Homo sapiens: one gene and its partners. Changing the gene in region 4 together with the main gene of any one other region gives a genetic interaction. Each region holds a gene or a part of one and is shown on either strand. Other genes may lie near its edges.

Region 1 (4,096 bases), on a different chromosome or scaffold from region 4:
TTTGCCTCAGCCATGCAAAAACAGATCCTAGCCCGAGTGCCCCTGCGACCATAGACACCGCCACCGGCCCAGCCACAACTGCTTCTGCCAGTTCCCTCTGCAACTTGGCTCCCTCCCAGCCTGCCCCGGCCACTTACTATCTCGTCTCCTGGCTTGCAGCTGTCCACCAGATCTGCGAGGAGAATGGCGTCCTTGGAGCGGGGCAGCCGGCCAGCCGCCACTTTGCCTGGACTCTCCTGGATTCGGATACGCTGGTAGTTCTGATAGATGGTCTGCGAGGGACACACAGAAGGCCTCAAATCACTGACTTACTATGTCACCTAACCTTGACCCCCGAACAGGAGGGAGAACAGGCAGGATTCCGACTCCTGAGTGGCAAATGGAGAGCCAAAGACAGCAAGGAATGAGTTCATGGCGACTCAGCACATCAGTTGACAGTCCCCACTCCTGCCACACCATCCCTCTGGGATGCCTTCTGACGGCCAGACTCAGCACCTGCTCTATGCTTTACAGCTAAGCTGTCTTGAGTACCGATGCTGGAACCAGGCTGCCTGGGTTCTGTGTCTAAGCTGTGTGATCTTGGGCAAGTGACTTCCTCTCTCTGTGCCTTCTCTGCAACCTCACAATAAGAATTAAAGCAAGTCATACATACATCAACCTAATCCAGCATCTGATAAATGTTAAGTTACAGGAAGTTTTGGCTGTCACTGTCAAGTATCACAGGCCAGCACTGTGCCATGTCATTTCGTACCCATTATCTCACAACATGGCACTGCAGTTAAAAGCACATGCTCTAGATCAAGATGCCTGAGCTGTGGACCTCTAACACACATTCTGGTTGGGTGACCTCAGCCAGTTCTCTAAACACTCGGCAAAGTGGGGCCAGTAACAGTTCCTGCCTCATGAGCTGTGAAAAAGGACCAGGTAATAAACCACCCACCACCTGGCACTGGTAAGTTACTCCATGAATGATAGCTGTAACTGTTAACCCTCTACCAGGTACTATCTCAGGTCCCTAGAAGCAAGGCCTGAGGGAGACAGACAGGGCATGGGAAGAGTGAGCAAAGACGTGGCTCAGCTGGCATCTGGCCTGCAGCTGCCCCACCCGAGACGAGACGGGTCAGCTTTTGGCTGTAGGTGGCCACAGGTGGAACCTCTGAGGCATTTTCTGGCAAGGTGGCTCCAGCTGGGACAGTTCGCAGAACTGCACTGCAGAGCGGTGAGAAGAGGACAGCCAACAGCCACAGCAGCAAGGCAGTCAAGGGGCCTGGGCGCCACCACAGCGATGGCGATGAGCCCATTTACAGGGACGCTCAAGTACAAAGGCACATTACATGTGCCTAAGACCTTAACATCAGAGGCTTTGGCAGCGTCTCCTGAATATGGTGCAGGAGGTTGGTATGGTCCAGGGGCCCCACGTGAGCCAGACAGGTCCCAGAAACAAGCTGAGGGGAAGTCCCGATGGGACTGCAGCCACCCCACGTGAGTGATGGCACCATGGAGACTGGTAAGCACACATCCTGAAGGAGTGACCTGGCAAGAAGTGGGCCCTGTTTGCCAGATCTTCTCATGTTTCAAGAGGAGCCATAAACTTGTATGGTTTAAACAAATCGCCTGACTTAAATATTGACTTGAATTCCTAAAAACGTCGTGTGGGCCAAGCTAAGTCCACTGGCCAGACAGACTGGGTCCACCCCAGGGTGTGGCCAACACACAATTCTATCTTGCTTCTTGCGGCTGCCCACACTGGTCTTCCACAGCCTGAGAGGCCAGTCAGGTCCTGCATACTGGGCACCCCTAAGGACAGCTGGCAGCAGACCTTGTGTCCTCTCTCACCTCCTCCATGTTGACCTCAAAGGGGCCGGCCGACTGGCACTCAGGACAGGAGCCTGGTTTCACCTCCTGGTTCTGGGACTGGCAGAAAGGACCCAGGACGAAATTGCACTTGTTGCAGTTGTACTTGACCATGCTGAGCTGGGGCAGGACGCCAGTGCAGCTGGTCACCACCCCACTGGTGCGGATCAGCTGGTTCAGATGCAGCTGCCTGCGGAGGCAGAGGGTGCATCAGAAGCCGTGAGCCAGGGTGAGGCCAGGCTGCAGACGAGAGTGTCCCAACACACTGTCCTGGAAATTGGGCCCAGCCCCCAGCCCGGGAAGATCCCTCCCATCACACTCCTGTGCAACCACAACTCACCTGCGATGAGGATGCTGCTGGCTGCACCCTCCCCGCCCACACCACAATCGCTCTTCAGGAATCACGACCGAGTCACCCAGCACTGAGCTCGGACCTGCCATCCTCACCTGCCCTCAGCTCACCTCAGCGAGCGCAGCTCCTCCACCAGAGGCAGGTGGGAGATGCGGACATGGATGTGGTTGGTGATGCGGTCGTACTTGGGGTACATGGCCAGTACCACCTCCAGGGCAGCCTCATCAAAGATCTGCAGCAGCTCCGCCGGTGCCTCAGGCAGGAAGTAGGCCAGCACGTGCTCCCTGGCTGCCAAGTCCTCATAGTTCACCACCAGGCTCTCACGGTTCTCTAGAAGGGGGCACAGTGGGAAGAGAGTTAACTAAGCATGAGGCCTGGGCTGGGCTGCAACAATGCCTGTGTGAGAAGCAAGGCCTACCCACCCCGACCATTGATTTTGACCTAGAAAGCCCAGCTTTCACTTCTAGGTCTACCACACTTCAGCTGTGACATAGCCTGAGCTTCAACTTCCTACTCCGTAAAATGGGCATGTCACACAGTGTACAAAGTTGCTGGGGGGTTAAATTAAATATGAGCAGAGTGCCTACACAGCTACAAACATGAAACGCCTTACAAGAGCCAGGAAGAAACTGACAAACACAGGACAAAAAGCAGTGGAAGGAATTGCAGGAATCAAGATCTACATGTCCCTTTTAAAAGTCAATTCCTGGCTGGGGACGGTGGCTCACGCCTGTTATCTCAACACTCTGGGAGGCCAAGGCGGGCAAATCACCTGAGGTCGGGAGTTTGAGACCAGTCTGACCAACATGGAGAAACCCCTTCTCTACTAAAAAAAAAAAATTAGTCAGGCATGGTGGTGCATGCCTGTAATTCCAGCTACTCGGGAGGCTGAGGCATGAGAAACGCTTGAACCCAGGAGGCGGAGGTTGCAGTGAGCCGAGACCGTGCCATTGCACTCCAGCCTGGGAAACAAGAACAAAACTCCGTCTCAAAAAAAAAAAAAAAAAAAAAAAGAGTCAATTCCTATTACAAAGATCAAAGTAGTAATCCAGATTTTTATATAAAATCTGTCCATTTTCAAGCTTGTCAAAAAACGCTTTGGTGGCCCAGATGTGGTCACTGCATAGCCAGCAGGAGAGCCCTGATGCAAAACTCAAAACTTTTGGTTTCTCTGACAGACCTCTCAGCCATATGCCCTGTGCTTCACGTGTTCACTCGGCTCAGACAACTTTCTGGGGAGGATTTAGGGAGGCGCTACAGGGGCTGAGGCGGGGGCGTAGGGAAGCCACACCTTTGCACATGTCGCTGATGCGCTCCTTGAAGACGTTGTGGCCGTGGCTGTCGACGTGAGTGCGCAGGAAGTTCTTGAAGCGGTGGTGGATCTCCAGCCGGGGGCCCGCCATGCTCACCCACTCGCGCACAGAGTGGCCTTTGAGATCCTCCAGGTTCTCGATGCTCTCGATCATCTCCTCGTCCTCCTCGCCGTCCTCCGTGGCCCGCTCCACCTGGCGGCGCTTGCGGGCAGGGCGCTCCTCGTCCTCCTCATCGCTGTCTGGGGAGGCAAGAGACACCTGCTACTGCGGTCATCCCCAGCACCTTCTACTCCCCTCCCAGACTCCTTCCCAGCTTCCCAGTCCCTCGGGCAGGCAGACAACTGGACCTACCATACAGGAGCCCACGGCGCATGCGGCCCAGGCCCCGGCCAGCCTCCCGGTCACGCTGCCGCATGGCCCGCTCTGCTGCCTCCCTCTGACTGGCCGTCAGCTCCTCTACGTCCTCATCATCCAGAGCCAGTCCCTCGGCCTCATAGGCGTCCAGCTCTGGGATGGCGCGGTAGTCCCTGAGGGAGCACCAAAACAGATGTGGTTACTGCCAAAAAGGAAAACCCTA
Region 2 (3,747 bases), on a different chromosome or scaffold from region 4:
GCCCCTCCATATATACTGCCAAATGTTGGTCTCAAATATATACTGCCTCCATATATACTGCCCAGCTGGTCTCAAACTCCTGTCCTCAAGTGATTCACTTGCCTTGGTTTCCCAAAGTGTTGGGATTACAAGCATGAGCTACCATGCCTGGACTCAAATAGATAATCTTGTTCTTACCAAAGCAGTAACTGAGGAGTGTGCAGGACTCCTCCACCCACAGGTGATGCTTCTGACAGATCACAAAGGAATTTAGAATTCTAGTTTAACAATATCACTCTTTACTCAAGTGGAAGGGAGTATATATTTTTTCCACCTCTGTAAGTAAAGTTCATTTTAGCAGTTGGTAGAACTGGTGTCCTACCAACTAGGCTAGGTTTTCTACCTAGCCATGCCTATTTATGTCTTTGCAATCAAGAAAGATTCTCCATCCCTGGTAACAAAGCATCGTCTTCCTAAAGTTCACTTCACTGTATGAAGAACTGTGAGGATCTAAATTCTACAGTATTTCCCTTTGTGAGTTTATTAAACTCTAATGCTAGGCACATACACGTCTTTGAAAACTGCCTCAAACTTTCTCCTTCCTGGGACTTCCTGTAAATGAATTTCATTCTCACTGTCCCAACAGCTCCAATCCTAGGAATTAATTGAAAAATAAACTACAAACGTGAGCAGAAAAGCCTTCACAATGAATCCTAGAGAAAACAGTTCAATTATCTGAAAGGAGTGTTCCTTCCTACACCCATGCCAGACTCTGATTTTCCCATGCTAGCAACTGTGACATTACAGAAACATCTGTTCCTGACACTGTTCAACTGTTTAAATAACCAAGGAGGAGAAAAAAAAGATTTATAATTAAATAGTATTTAGGGTCCCAATAGTCAGAGTCCAATAATCCAAAGGTCATCTATGCAAAATTAGGAATATGCATTTTTCTCCAAAGAGTATCTTTGGCTTTAATCTGATTCTCAAAAGGATCCTATGATCCAAGAAAGTTTAAGAACCATTGAAACAGTAATTTATTCCTGAGCTATTTGACTGCCATCAATCCATTTGTTATAAAACTGAAGGGAAAACACACATTTGAATCACTTCTTCTAAAGCTTTAGTAAGTGATCTGTTCAAATAAGCAATTACATGAAAGAATAAAACCAAATTTCCAACCTAAAATTCTGACAGGAGAGTCAACATGATGGTTAAGGCCTATTTCATATTCAAACTTCAGTCTATGAAAGAGTAGAGAGAGAAGGGTCTCCTCTTTCAAATTAAATATTATAAAAACAATTAAAAAAAGGTATCAATAGTCCTAAAATGCAGCAACTCCATCTCAAACAAGCATGACACACTTCTGATCAGATGAAGTATTTACAAAGGTAGCTTGTGTTTTAAGCATGTAACACTTTGGGTGACGACAGAAGTTTCTCCTCTTTGGGTGAAACCTGCCTAAGGCTGTAGAGATGACCAACACTCTGCAGGTGTTAGTTCTGAATAACTACTGTGGGCTTTTCATGATCTTCCCTCCAGTAGGAGACCACAATTGAGTCTAAAGTCAGATCCACCGTTGTCTATGGGTAGGCAGGGTTGATTCAAACTTAATCCTTGTTTGTATTCTTTTGGATTACTGCAAAAACATCTAGGGACCAGAGTGAATGTCTGGTGAGGCATAACTGCAGAGGTGAAAGATGTCAAACATTTTCAATTTGGCAGTTTCTTCAAGGTGTGTGAAAATTCACATACAGAAGGTCTGGCAGTGTCTTCTGTAAGTTTTCGTGTTGCCGTATTTCTGAAGGAGCTCTTGGGCCTGCTGCTGCATTTCCTGGGCCAGACAGCCAGGAAAGTGGGACCTGATGAGAAGCAGGACGAGGCAGCACTCCAGCACATCTGGGAAGGGCCAGGCCTGAAAGACGATGACATGAGGATGAATAAGGAAGCATTTGCAGAAGAGCCACAAACACCTGCACAGAAGGCACCAGTCACTCAGGTTCATCTATAGACACTTCTTGGACACAGCTGAGCCAGCTGTCTCCTAAGGCAATGTCCTGTCTTTCTCTTCAACAGTTACTCCAAGGAGAAATGACACTCAAAACTAGGATGGCTACTGCGATGTCCTTCTCAATGGCACAATCTCTTTCTACAGCCCTATGCAAATCCACCCTTAAAAATGGTGCTTCTATTAATATTTGGGCCCACAGCCAAAAAGACCTGTCCATCTGTAAGCTATCTAATACATGGCACCAATTTAAATTTTACTTCTTACCTATTAAATCTATTTGGTTTCTCTGAAGATTGAGGTATAAAATTACTTGTGTGATCGATAATTCTAGTCTCACAAAACATTCTAGCTAACCAAAGTAATTGGATTCTAAATTCTTTTTTTTTGTTTTGTTTTTTTTTTGAGACAGAGTCTCGCTCTGTTGCCCAGGCTGGAGTGCAGTGGCGTGATCTTGGCTCACTGCAAGCTCCGCCTCCTGAGTTCACGCCATTCTCCTGCCTCCATGCTATTCTCCTGCCTCAGCCTCCCGAGTAACTGGGACTACAGGCACCTGCCCCCACGCCCGGCTAATATTTTGTATTTTTAGTAGAGACGGGGTTTCACCATGTTAGCCAGGATGGTCTTGATCTCCTGACCTCATGATCCGCCAGCCTCAGCCTCCCAAAGCGCTGGGATTACAGGCGTGAGCCACCACGCCCAGCCTGGATTCTAAATTCTTAAGCACATATGAATGGGTAGAGATTTTAGAAACTGAACAGAGAGGTAGCTGACCTTTATAAGAATGTGGTATAGTCAAGTGATAACACAAAAAGTGATGCTTTACCAAATGAACTGCTTTAACTCTTACCTTAATGCTCTCAGGAAATTTCGCCATTCTCTGATTTGCCTCGGTAAGCCTTTTGGTTAACTCAGGCAGAGAAAGTGGCTCATTTTTTTCTTCTTTACTAGTGAAAAAAATAAAAGGTGTAAATTGTATGTCTTGCCCTGGGTAACATTTTTCTCCCATTGTTATTTTACTGTGGTAAAATGTATATAACATAAAGCTTACCATCTTAGCCATTTAAAAATACATAGTTCAGTGATTTTAAATAAATTCATAATGTGGTGAAAAACATCCCCACCACCCATTTCCAAAAACTCTTGTCATTTTGTAAAACTGAAATCTTATACCCATTAAACATTAACTTCTCATTCTGCTTCCCTTAGCCCCTGTCAACATTATTCTACTTTCTGTCTCTATAAATTTAACTATTTTGAGTAGTTCATATAAGTGGAGTCATATAGTATATGTCTTTTTGTGACTGGCTTATTTCACTCAGCATGATGTCCTCCCTTCGTAAGGCTGAATGACATTCCATTGTATGGATATGGCACATTTTGCTTATCCATTCATCTGTCAGTGGATACTTAGGTTGCTCCCGTGTTTTGGGTATTATGAATAATGCTGCCATGAACACAGGTGTGCACATATTTCAGACCCTGCTTTCAATTCTTTTGGGTGTATACCCAGATGTGGAAGTGCTGGATCCTATGGTCATTCTATTTTACATTTCTGGAGGAAGTGCTGCTGTACTGTTTTCCACAGTGGCTGCATCATTTTACATTCCCACCAATAGGCACAAGGGTTCCAATGTCTCTGCATCCTCCTCAACACTTGTTCTGTTTCTCTGATAGTAGCCTAATGGCTATGAAGTGCTGCTTCACTGTAGTTTTGATTTGCATTTCCCCAATGATGAGATGTTGAGCATCATTTCCTG
Region 3 (3,995 bases), on a different chromosome or scaffold from region 4:
AACAGAGTGAGACTCTGTCTCAAAAAAAAAAAAAGACGTGTCTGTTGTCTCGTACGCTGAGTATAATCGGGGAAGAAATGGTACACTAATAAGCCTTCAGGTATTATGTACTAAGCAATGATGTGCCCAGGGATAAAAAGACAAAGCATGGTATCTGTTTTCAAGGAGCTTTCAGTTTCAAGTAGGAGCACATGTGTAATCAAATGAATGCCATTCTGCATATCAGGAGAGAGATTGCTGATTGGCATAAGAAAGTTCTCCAGAATCGCTTGAACCCGGGAGGCGGAGGTTGCAGTGAGCCGAGATCGCACCACTGCACTCCAGTCTGGCGACAGAGCGAGACTCACCTCAAAAAAGACAAGAAAAGAAAGTTCTCAGAGAGGCAGACACAGTGGCTAATCTCAGCATTTAAAAGAGCTGATTGCTTGAGTCCAGGAGTTCAAGACTAGCTCGGGCAACATGGCAAAACCCCATGTCTACAAAAAATACAAAAATTAGCCAGTTCTGGTGGCGTGCACCTGTAGTTCCAGCTACTTAGGAGGCTGCAATGAGCCTAGATTGTGCCATTGCACTCCAGCCTAGGCATTGGAGTGAGACCCTGTTTTGTTTTGTTTTTTCCTGAGACAGTGTCTTGATGTGTTGCCAGGCTGGAGTGCAGTGGCAAGATCTCTGCTCACTGCAACCTCTGCCTCCCGGGTTCAAGCGATTTTCCTGCCTCAGCCTCCCGAGTAGCTGGGACAACAGGCGTGTGCCACCACGCCCAGCTAATTTTTGTATTTTTAGTAGAGACAGGGTTTCAGCATGTTGGCCAGGATGGTCTCGATCTCTTGACCTCATGTTCTGCCCGCCTCGGACTCCCAAAGTGCTGAGATAACAGGCGTGAGCCACTGTGCCCATCCAAGACCCTGTCTTAAAAAAAAAAAAAAGTTCTCGAGAGGGAATTGGAGTAGGGACGGAACTCACAAATGGCTTTATGGAGAAGATGGCATTGGAATGAAGTTTTGAAGAATGCGACGGAGATTTTTTTGGTAGAAACAGAAGGGTATCTGAACAAAGGGATTAGGTTGGGCAAAGATGTGAGCCAGCAAAGCTTAGTATGTCTGGAAATAGCAGATAGCCCAGTTGAGCTGTAGGGAAACATTTGTGTTGGGTGATGGTGGGAGGTAGGTTGGAACGAGAAAGGTGGACGGGCTAGAGGTCAGTAGGTGGGTTCTTGGCACCAGATAAGAGAGTTTGGACTTTACGCTATCGTTAATGGGCAGCCACTGAAAGTTTGTGAGCAGAGTTTTGATAGGACCAAGGGAAATGGAAACAGCATTCATAAGATTATAAAACTGTCATATAATCATGAGGTGTTAAGGGTCTGGGCTGTGATGCTGGTTGTGGAAAATGAAAAGGGTAAAGATAAAGGAAACAACACCAAAGAATTTATTGGACTTAGTGACTTACTGTAGGGGTCAGCAAACCTTTTTTTCTCCCCCCAAACCAAAAACGGTTAATAAAACCCTTTTTTTTTTTTTTTTTTTGAGACAAAGTCTTACTCAGTTGCCCAGGCTGGAGTGCAGTGGCGACATTTCCTGGCTCACTGCACCCTCTGCCTCCTGGCTTCAACCGATTCTCCTGCCTCAGCCTCCTAAGTAGGTGGGATTACAGGCATGTACCACCATGCCTGACTAATTTTTGTATTTTTAGTAGAGATGGGGTTTTGCCATATTGGCCAGGCTGGTCTCAAATTCTGGACCTCAGGTGATCTGCCCGCCTTGTCCTCCCAAAGTGCTGGGATTACAAGTGTGAGCCACTGCACCCAACCACACCTTTTCTATTAAAGGGCCAGATAGTCCCTTTGTGGGACATGTAGTCTCTGTTGCATATACTCAACTCCATCTTTGTTGTGTGAAAGCAGCCACAGGGGATACATAAATGAATAAGTTAGGATGTGTTTCAGCGTTTCATCTATGGATATTACAATTTGAATTTTGTATAATTCTCATGAAGTGGCATGAAATAGTCTTGTTTTGACTTTTTGCCAACCATTTTAAAATGTAAAACCCATTCTTAGCTCTTGAGCCATATAAAAACAGGTGGTGGGGCAGATCTGGCCCACAGGCTGTAGCTTGCCAACTCCTGACTTACTGGATTTGAGGTACAGAATGAGTGAGACTGAAAATAACATTTTGAGCCTGAGTCACTGAGAAAGTTAAATTGTCATTTAAGAAGAGAGGGAGCAGTTTGTAGAAAAGAATGATATCGAATTTTAGACAAGTCTTTTGGTATTTCTCACAAATCAGCACCCCTCCCACTACCGACCCCCATCACCATACACTAGTGGGATCAGAACCAGTGCTGAAGGTACATGTTTGAGAAGCATCAAATCATCTGCATAGAACTGCTGGCTGACACTAGGAGAGGAGAAGGGTATGAGAAATCTTCTCTTATGTTGAGTCATATGTTTTATGAATATATTTTTTAAGTAATTAAAATCTTTTCATAAATTAAGAACCAACATTCTGCCTCTTGGGATATATTTCAAAGAATCTTTAATACAGCTCCATCAGATGACATGTGCATGAGTGTTTTTGCAGTATGATTTTTGGTGGTGGGGGCCTAGAGGCAACATAAATGTTCAGCATTAGGAGAATGCATAGGTGAAACATGTATTCATATCATGGGGCATTAAACAACAGAAGCAACAAAATTCATGTGCATACAACATAAGAGTACCTTTTAAAAGGTATGTAGTGGGAGAAGAAAAAGCATTTTATAGATACAGAAAACATCATTCTGTAACTTAGAAACATACATAGGAAACAGAAACAGTTTTTAAAAACCTACACAAAAAGCCACAGTATTACTACATTAGAAAAGTTGCTTTTCAGAGGAATGGGAGTGAGATGGCGATAAGAGGAAATAAAAAACAAAAATATTTTTAAATAGCAAAATAACCCCTTTTTTTTTGAGACAGTTTCCCTCTGTCACTCAGGCTGGAGTGTAGTGGCGCGATCCTGGCTCACTGCAACCTTTGCCTCCCGGGTTCAAGCATTCTTCTGCCTCAACCTCTTGAGTAGCTGCAGTTACAGGTGCGCACTACCATACCTGGCTAATTTTTGTGTTTTTAGTAGAGACGGGGTTTTGTCATGTTGGCCAGGCTGGTCTTGAACTCCTGACCTCAAGTAATCTGCCCGCCTCAGCCTCCCAAAGTGCTGGGATTACAGGTGTGAGCCACCGTGCCCAGCCAAAACATGTTTTTGAAGAGTAGTTGATAAAGAGTAGATGATAAAAAGGAAGATGCTTAACTGTGTAACTAAATGAAAACATAATATGGGTATGTATATAGTATGATCTCAGTTATGTAAAAAACTATGCACAAAAAAACCTAAAAAGAAAAATATCAGGATGTATTTCTAGAAGGTGGGATTATCTGTTGTTAAAAATTTTTGATATTCTATTTTCTAAATTGAGTTTTTATCGCTTTTGTATAAGAGAACCTAAAGGGTAAAGAGTTTTAAAAATGAGGACATTGAAAAAGGGAAAGAAAAAAGTTACAAGGCAAAGTTAAACTACTTGGGTGTGGGAATGAGCTGTCCATGAAGTTCTTCATAGGTTCTTATTACCATCTGAAACAATGAGAGGTGAGCTGAGAGGCCAGTCAGAAGTGAGTAAAGTGAGTTATCAGTCGAACTCCCGTTTCCTCTTATCCCTTGTCCAGCTCTTAGAACAAGCTCTGGTGATTGAGGAACAGCTGCGCCGGGCTGCTTACTTGAACATGTCAGAAGACCCTTCTCACCCTTCCATGGCCCTCAACACCCGCTTTGCTGAGGTGGAGTGTTTGGCGGAAAGTCATCAGCACCTGTCCAAGGAGTCAATGGCAGGAAACAAGCCAGCCAATGCAGTCCTGCACAAAGGTAGCCAGTGGCTCCCCTGCCTCCTGCCGATTCGGCCTCCCTGATCTGACTGCATCCTAATGTACATATATTTGTTTTCAAACTTTCAGAGCT
Region 4 (4,096 bases):
AATACGGCATTGCTCAGTGTCCTTAACACAAATACCGTTAAGTAACAGTGGGCTCCACCTTCAGTTATGGACAGGATAGGAGGAAATGGATGGAAGTATTTAGATAGACAGTAGAGAGCCTAATGAGGTTTTGTGAAACCCCAAATAAATGAACTCCTTTTTGCTTAAAAATTTTCTTTGCATCTTTTAGCTTGAATGTCCTGCAGAGCTCCACACCTTGTGAGATATGTATTACTGGCTTAGTCTGCAAATCAGCTTTGGAGGAGGTCTGAGGGAGGTGAGAAGGGAATGACGGAATTTTGGAGCAGAGACCTCCACCTGCTAATAAAGACGACAACTCCTGGCAAGCCCTGGAGTTGGGCAGGAAAAACTCACACTGACAGATATATTTAACATCTTTTCCTTAAATATCCTAATATCGAAAAGCCTTCAATGTATCAGCTGCAATACATGTGTTTTAGGGATACAGCCTTAACATGAAATGGACACATACATAAGAAAAATCGTAAGCAAGTCCTTTTTTTTCTTGGCTACTGTTTACAAATTGTTTACTACCCATATTATCTTACCTTTTGAATTTGACCTGCCCCTTGAGATATTGGAATAAAATGAGATACTGCAACAGGATGTGTCGACGAAAGTTACTGTCACTCAGTTGTAAATCCATCAGCTACTCAAGAAACAAGCAAACACATACGAAAACAACACATTAAAATCAAGTTTTTCCTAAAGGTACAAAATGTGCTAATATAGAAATGGAAGATTCCAATTCAATTTAAAAGCCATTTGTTGAGAGTTCACTGCATGTGAGGCATTACCGCACAAGCCCAAAGACAGCCCAGTCAAGGTTTCACTTAGATTTCTTGACTGTTTTATGCCATGACACATTCTTGCTGGTGGATAACAATGATCTATCTATGGTCCAGACATGAGGATAAAATAAAGCAGAAATAGAAAAAAGTAAGCTGGGCATGGTGGCACAAAGCCTATTATAGTCCCAGCTACTCAGGAAGCTGAGAAGGAGGATCACTTGAGCTCAGGAGTTCGAGATCAGTCTGAGCAACATAGCAAGACTCTAAATTTAAAAAAAAAATTTTTTTTTAAAGTAAAACTGAGGCTACTACTTTCTCACATATGAAGAAATAATGGCTAAAGAAGATACGGATAACAGCACAATATCAACGGGGACCACTCATTTTTGTAGCCCTATAAAGTGCCTGCAACAGAGGTATTACTTGACAATAAACAAGAAATTAGAGGTGAAGATCATCTCTGATTAGATGGGCTTTTTTTTTTAGCTTTTAGTGAAAATTGCATCATACTTGTATTATCACAGAATCTGGATTAGAAAGGACTTGAAGGTCACTCATGAGGAAGTTCTTCAACGACCCTGCCATCCAGCTGTAAGAATAACCTGCGGCGATGAAGGAAGGTCATTCTGATTATGTGCATGGAACACTGAAGGAAGGCTGAAGTCTGTATCCACAAACTCATGCTAGTTCTGCCTTCAAAAACTACAGTAACAAAGGAAAGCCACGTTCTTCTAAATGAATCGCCAGTAAGGCAGCTGGAAGCGTCGAAGATTGGTTTTGGTTCAATGTCCCAAGTGCTGGTGGCTCTGCTTTACGTGGTTGGTACCATTTACTAATGCTACCTAACACGCACAAGCCTCCCTATTCACTAGCAACCCCTTCCACACTGTGGCTCCAGGTCTTAAAAAAAAAAATTAATGATCAGCCTTCCAGTCAGGTTTCCCTCACGTTTAAGGATTGAATATATTTGATTGTTATTTATATTAACTCTCCTATCCCAAATTGGAAATGTGAATGGCCGGCCATCAGCCTTCCCTTCCTCCAGCCCCTGGGCAACTTGACTGTCTCCACTCAGGCTGTTAGTTCCTTGCCCTTAACTCCACGGACAGGCCCATCTCTGCTCCAGCTACCCACTACTGTGGCCACAGCTAGACCTGGGGTCACTCACAGCTGCCCCAGATCTGAAGTCTTCAACTCACAATCCTATCTCACCACAACCTCTATCCTTCCCAGGTCTCTCGCTCAGTTGCTTCCAATATACCTAATATTTGGATCTTACCGAGACTTTAAGGCCCTTGACCCGTCTATTCTCTGCCTGTTAGTCCCATCCCATTTTATTATAATCCTATTTTAGTCTAGATAAGGGGTCAGCAAACTTTTTCCTGAAGTGTCAAATAGTAAGTATTTTTATTAATAGGTTATGTGGGCTAAGAGACATATTATGGATATTATGTAGGTATTTAAACATCTAAAATGTAAGGGGGAAAAAAAAACCAAAATCACCAAAAACAACCAACACAGGTGGTGGGCCAGATTTGGCCTATAGGCTATAGTCTGCCAACTCCTGGTCTAGACTTCATGGTTAATCTCTTCGGCCATTTTCTTGCCAACTTCAACACACTTGTCCCATATTTCTTCTGTCATGTCTAGTGAGCAAACAGCAACCTTGAATAAACCAACTGTTAGTCACCTTCTCTATACCAACCCTCAGGATTCCAATCTCAGCTGAAAGTGAGGTGCCTGAGTGAATACCCCAAATTACACAGCTATGCAGAAGGCACCACTGGTATGTTGTCACCACCTTAAACATCTGTTTTTAATCAGCAATCTTTCTTTATTCTTCAAGGCCATTCTCTCTCCTACTCTTCACAGTAATGATTTTCAACCCTTTCCACTTAGCAAAAATACTACTTTACCACCCCTTCTCACTTTCAGTAGATAACTACTTTTGCCTTCAATGAGAAGAAAAATTAAATTGGAAAGCATTTCATTTCTTGGCCCCCAAAATGACAAATCAGCTGCACCTACACCTTTGTTTACTTCATTTCCTTCTGTCACAACTCCTTCACGGCTAAAGGTATTCCATCTGGATTACCTTCCATCTGGAATCCCAATATCCCTAACAATTGAGTTCCATCAACTAACTGCCCTGGTTTCTGTATCTACAACCTATTCTTTCCAAGCTCCTTTCCATAAGCATTAAATAAGCTCCCTCAAAAATCTCCCACATTCTCACCTAACCCTTTAACAGCAAAGCTTCTTAAAATAATTGACTATAGGCACTGTTGCCAATCAGCTCCTCAACCTGCTATCATCTGACCGCCTCATCCACTAATCCATTGAAAGTGTTTTTGTCGGCTGGGTGTGGTGGTTCACGCCTGTAATCCCAGCACTTTGGGAGGCTGAGGCGGGCGGATCACAAGATCAGGAGTTCGAGACCAGCCTGGCCAACATGGTGAAACCCCGTCTCTATTTAAAAAAAAAAAAAATTAGCGGGGCGTGGTGGTGCATGCCCTGTAATTCCAGCTACTCTGGAGGCTGAGGCAGGAGAATAGCTTAAACCTGGGAGGCGGAGGTTGCAATGAGTCCAGACCATGCCACTGCACTCCAGCCTGGGCAGCAGAGCAACAATCGGTCTTGGGGCGGGGGAAGAAAGTGTTTTGTCAAGATCACCAATGACTTATTTGTTGTTAAATCCTGTGAACACTCTTTACTGTCCTCATCCTACTTGATATGCTTGGCTTCCATGAGTGCATGCTTTTCTAGTTTTTCTCTAATCTCACAGGTTACTCTTCAATCTTCTCCTCTTCTCCCTTCATTCTCCCTTAAACATGGGTTTTCTTCGGGATTTCAGTATTTTCTTCTCTTCTGAATCTACACTCTCCCCTTTAGCTCATTTCATACACTCTACAGTTTGAATTACCATTTATAAACTGGTAACTCCTACAACTATACTCTCAACCTAGATCTTGTTCCTAGTCTCCAGCTTTGTACACTAGACAACCTATCACACATCTCTACCTGAATGTTCAACTGACACCTGATCAGATTTCATGAACAAAGTAAAACATCAATTTCCTCCACAAAAGCTGTTCTCCAGCATTGGCTAATTCAATGAGAGGCTCCAACATCCATTTGCCCAAGCAACTCTAGGAAGGCTTCCTGGAGAAAGCAGCATCTAAACTCTCAACAAGGAACAAACCTAAAGGTGGAGAGTGGGGGTTGGGGGATGGGGGTGCAAGAAGGGGAGCCAAATAAGAGACTGGCCTATTTGAAGGACCGAA
Region 5 (4,096 bases), on a different chromosome or scaffold from region 4:
TTTTTTGTAGACATAAGGTCTCACTATGTTGCCCAGGCTGGACTCAAACTCCAGGGCTCAAGCAATCCTCTGCCTCAGCATCCCAAAGTGCTGCAGGCATGAGCCACTGCACTCAGCCCAATTATATTCATATTATTACTCACTTGAACCTAGTTTCAAATACACCTTAAAGAATCATTTAATTAAAATATAACAAGGCATACACCGTATTTAAGTAGAGGTTCAATCAGTTAAGAAATGGTACACTAAAACTGGGTAATTTCAGTTTACTTATTAAAGGGAATTATTTGCAAAGATATAGGTGAAATACAGGACAACCAGAAGGGACAGTACAGTACCCCAGTACTATAATGATAACTAATAATAATGGATCCATTGCCATTCTTCAAACTGAAGAAACAAGAAGAAATAACTGTTATCAGAATCTGGAGAGAAAGTTGTATGGGGAGGGCTACCTGACAGGAGCTGTGACTTTTAGTAGAGGGGATGCAGTTAGCCATGGATTACCCTGAGGTGAATGAACCAGGCTAATAAATATACCAGCAACCTCCCTCCACCATCAACTAGGGTGATTCTATAATTTATTGTCCAAAGTGGGACAACCACTATGGGCAATTTAGTCATATCTATTAAAGTTGAAATTGTGCATACATAGAATTACACTTACTTATTCTGGAGACACTCTCTCATACAGGTTGCAAGGAGACATGCAAAAGAATGTTCAACAGCTACAAGAACTGAGCAATTTATTAACCTCTCTGCTTCAGTTTCCTAATATGTAAAATGTACATAATAGCTCTTATCTCACAGGATACTCTAATGATTAAACATGTTAAGTGCTTTCATGTATATGAAGTCTTAGAAAATACACATGCTAAGTGTAAGCTGCTATTATAATTGACACACTGCTTGCCATAGGAAAAGGCAGAAATAATCTAATGGTCTCTCAGCAGGGAAATAGATAAGCAATAATATATTCACACAATGGAATCCTGTACAGCAGTTCAAATGAACACTTTAGATCTACATATGTCAGCATCAATAAATCTAAAAGAATGCTTAGTTTTAAAAGCTAGTTATCAAAAAACCATATGTATACACATACATATATACACATATACACACACACACACGTCTCAAAAAAAAAAAAGAAAATATGCATGGGGTCTGGGAATGTTACATACCAACTTCAGTTCAGTGGTTACATGAACTGAAGAAGGGAGAGAGAGGAAATCTGTATCAATAACATTTTTATTCTTAAAATATCTGAGGTATTAATATGGCAAAATATGACATCTATTTAATCTCACTGGTGAATGCAGTATTGTATTACATACAAACTTACAGGTGATTACAGTAATATCACATACAAACTTACATATTTTTAATATGTTTAAAATATTTCAAAAACTTAAAATTTTTAAAATCAAACCCATTACTTTGCAAGTATCAGTTAAGAGACAGTAGCTTTGCAGAATGATCTCTTTTTTTTTTTTTTTTTTTGACACGGAGTCTTGCTGTATTGCTGCCCAGGCTGGAGTGCAGTGGCGTGATCTCGGCTCACTGCAACCTCTACCTCCCAGGTTCAACAGATTTTCCTGCCTCAGCCTCCTGAGCAGCTGGGACTACAGACGCGCACCACCATGCCCAGCTAATTTTTGTATTTTTAGTAGAGATGGGGTTTCACCATATTGGCCAGGCTGGTCTCAAACTCCTGACCTCGTGATCCACCCGCCTTGGCCTCTCAAAGTGCTGGGATTATAGGTGTTAGCCACCGCGCCCAGCCTCTCATTTTTATTCAAATAAAACAGAGACATATTTTAATTTCTAATATAAAAGAAAGTTTACGTATTTGTTACATTTCTCAAGATAATTAACCCTTCCCTGTGAAATTCTCTGGTCCAAATTATTTTGTCAGAAACTAGGGGGTCCTTAAAAGGAGAACACTGTATTTGTTTTCACCACAGCACCTAAACTTGAGTACAAATCGTAAGTATAGCAATGAATATGAGTTGGTAAAATTTAATACTTTTATTAACCAGAATGCTGGGTAAAGAGATATCCTAATTAAATGAATTAATTGTATAGTTAACCAAAAATTTCAACTTCTGTTCCTCAAGGATTTATCTTTTGCCCTGCGCCAGGAGCCCTTAACCTGTTCTGTGTTATGGACCCTTATGACAGTGTTGTGGACTGAATTGTGTCGCCCTAAAATTCATATGTCAAAATCCTAACCCCTAGTACCTCAGAATGTGACTGTACTTGAAACCAGAGTCTTTATTCTTTATTTATTTATTTATTTTTATGTTTTGAGACAGAGTTTCACTCCTGTCGCCCAGGCTGGGGTGCAATGGCACAATCTCAGCTCATTGCAACCTCCACCTCCGGGGTTCAAGTGATTCTTCTGCCTCAGCCTCCTGAGTAGCTGGGATTACATCTGCTGGCCACCAAGCCCGGCTAGGTTTTATATTTTTAGTAGACATGGGGTTTCACCATGTTGGCCAGGCTGGTCTCAAACTCCACACCTCAGGTGATCCACTCGCCTTGCCCTCCCAAAGTGCTAGGATTATAGACGTGAGCTACCATGCCCGGTGAAACCAGAATCTTTGAAGAAGTAATTAAGTTAAAATGAAATCATTAGATTGGGTCCTAATCCAGTATGAGTGATGTTTTTAAGAGAAAATTCAGGCAGGGCGCGCGGTGGCTCACACCTGTAAGCCCAACACTTTGGGAGGCAGAGGCGGGCAGATTACGAGGTCAGGAGATCAAGACCATCCTGGCCAACATGGTGAAACCCCAACTCTACCCAAAATACAAAAAATTAGCCGGGCGTGGCCGTATGCACCTGTAGTCCTAGCTACTCTGGAGGCCGAGGCAGGAGAATTGCTTGAACCCGGCAGGCGGAGGCTGCAACGAGCTGAGATCGTGCTACTGCACTCCAGCCTGGGTGACAGAGCAAGTCTCAGTCTCAAAAACAACAACAACAACAACAACAACAAAAAGAGAAAATTCAGACTTGGACTTGTACAGAGGGACGGCCATGTGAAGACAGAGGAGGAGATGGCCATCTACACACAGAGACAGACCTCAGAAGAAACCAACTCTGCTGACACTTAGATCTACCTCTATCCTCTAGAATTGTGAGAAAACTAATTTCTGTTGTTTAAGCCACACAGACTGTGGTACTTTATTATGGCAGCCCTACAAACTAATACAGTTTAGGAAATTATGAATCCCTTCTTAGAATGTTTTTAAATGTTTATAAAAGAAGCCAATTATAATAAAATATAGTTCTACCATGGAAACTTTGGGAAGGCCACAAACCCTATGTTAGGAGCTCCTTCCCTAATTTACCCTTTCCTGGGTAATATATTCTACTCCTATAGCTTCAACTTCTACCTAAATACTGATAATTCCAATTTCAAATCTCTCTCTCTCTCAAGCTCTAACCAGTGTCTACATCCATATCCTGAACTTTTCACTGTACATCAACATAATTGCATCTGATGCCTCATGGGTATCTCAAATTCAACACATCTGAAGCACTGCTGATCTCAGCATTGCCTAACACATTGCTGACCACCAGTCCACACTGGCAAAAATCTGAGAGTTTTTGTGAACACCTCCATCTTTCAAGTTCTGCCAAATATTTCTGCTAAGTATTTCTCAAATCCCCTCCTTTTTAATACCATTGCCACTGCCTTCAATCGAGCTCTTATCTCAACCGGGAAACTACAATTCCCTACAGATATTGTGCCTCCACCTCTTTGCCTCTTCAATCCACCCTTCCAACTGCTGCACTATGATCTTTCAATACTGTAACTGTCATTATTTTGGTACATAAATCCTTCAAAAAAAATTAGGGGGTGAATCATTCCGTGGTTTCTCATCACTGTATTTGATAAAATTTAAATCACTCTAGCCAGTTGAAATTCAAGGTGTAGCAAAATCTGGTAGCAGTCTCACTTCCTGCCTCATACACTAACTTACTGGGTAATATGTCATCTCCTGAACGCACCACATACTCTCACTCAGCTAACCTTTGCATATGCTGTCCCTTTCCACTCCTCCTCCATCATCCCCATTACCTCTATTG

The links.
Region 1: changes in THOC1 (region 4) and MCM2 together harm fitness less than expected from each alone (positive genetic interaction), as found in Homo sapiens cells (one large-scale study listed by BioGRID).
Region 2: changes in THOC1 (region 4) and GEMIN5 together harm fitness less than expected from each alone (positive genetic interaction), as found in Homo sapiens cells (one large-scale study listed by BioGRID).
Region 3: changes in THOC1 (region 4) and CHD4 together harm fitness less than expected from each alone (positive genetic interaction), as found in Homo sapiens cells (one large-scale study listed by BioGRID).
Region 5: changes in THOC1 (region 4) and ACTL6A together harm fitness less than expected from each alone (positive genetic interaction), as found in Homo sapiens cells (one large-scale study listed by BioGRID).

Annotation. Positions count from the first base shown.
Region 1 is NC_000003.12:127,604,558-127,608,653, reverse strand, and holds part of MCM2 (DNA replication licensing factor MCM2), read right to left. Parts: intron 4,047-4,096; coding exon 3,871-4,046; intron 3,778-3,870; exon of another isoform or gene 3,759-3,777; coding exon 3,498-3,758; intron 2,537-3,497; coding exon 2,317-2,536; intron 2,045-2,316; coding exon 1,837-2,044; intron 273-1,836; coding exon 138-272; intron 1-137. UniProt on the Homo sapiens protein: Acts as a component of the MCM2-7 complex (MCM complex) which is the replicative helicase essential for 'once per cell cycle' DNA replication initiation and elongation in eukaryotic cells.
Region 2 is NC_000005.10:154,886,484-154,890,230, forward strand, and holds the end of GEMIN5 (gem-associated protein 5), read right to left. Parts: intron 2,935-3,747; coding exon 2,838-2,934; intron 1,895-2,837; coding exon 1,727-1,894; 3' UTR 928-1,726; downstream 1-927. UniProt on the Homo sapiens protein: The SMN complex catalyzes the assembly of small nuclear ribonucleoproteins (snRNPs), the building blocks of the spliceosome, and thereby plays an important role in the splicing of cellular pre-mRNAs.
Region 3 is NC_000012.12:6,572,981-6,576,975, reverse strand, and holds part of CHD4 (chromodomain-helicase-DNA-binding protein 4), read left to right. Parts: intron 1-3,706; coding exon 3,707-3,902; coding exon of another isoform or gene 3,903-3,905; intron 3,906-3,995. UniProt on the Homo sapiens protein: ATP-dependent chromatin-remodeling factor that binds and distorts nucleosomal DNA. Acts as a component of the histone deacetylase NuRD complex which participates in the remodeling of chromatin.
Region 4 is NC_000018.10:226,232-230,327, forward strand, and holds part of THOC1 (THO complex subunit 1), read right to left. Parts: intron 671-4,096; coding exon 570-670; intron 1-569. UniProt on the Homo sapiens protein: Component of the THO subcomplex of the TREX complex which is thought to couple mRNA transcription, processing and nuclear export, and which specifically associates with spliced mRNA and not with unspliced pre-mRNA.
Region 5 is NC_000003.12:179,565,582-179,569,677, reverse strand, and holds part of ACTL6A (actin-like protein 6A), read right to left. Parts: intron 1-4,096.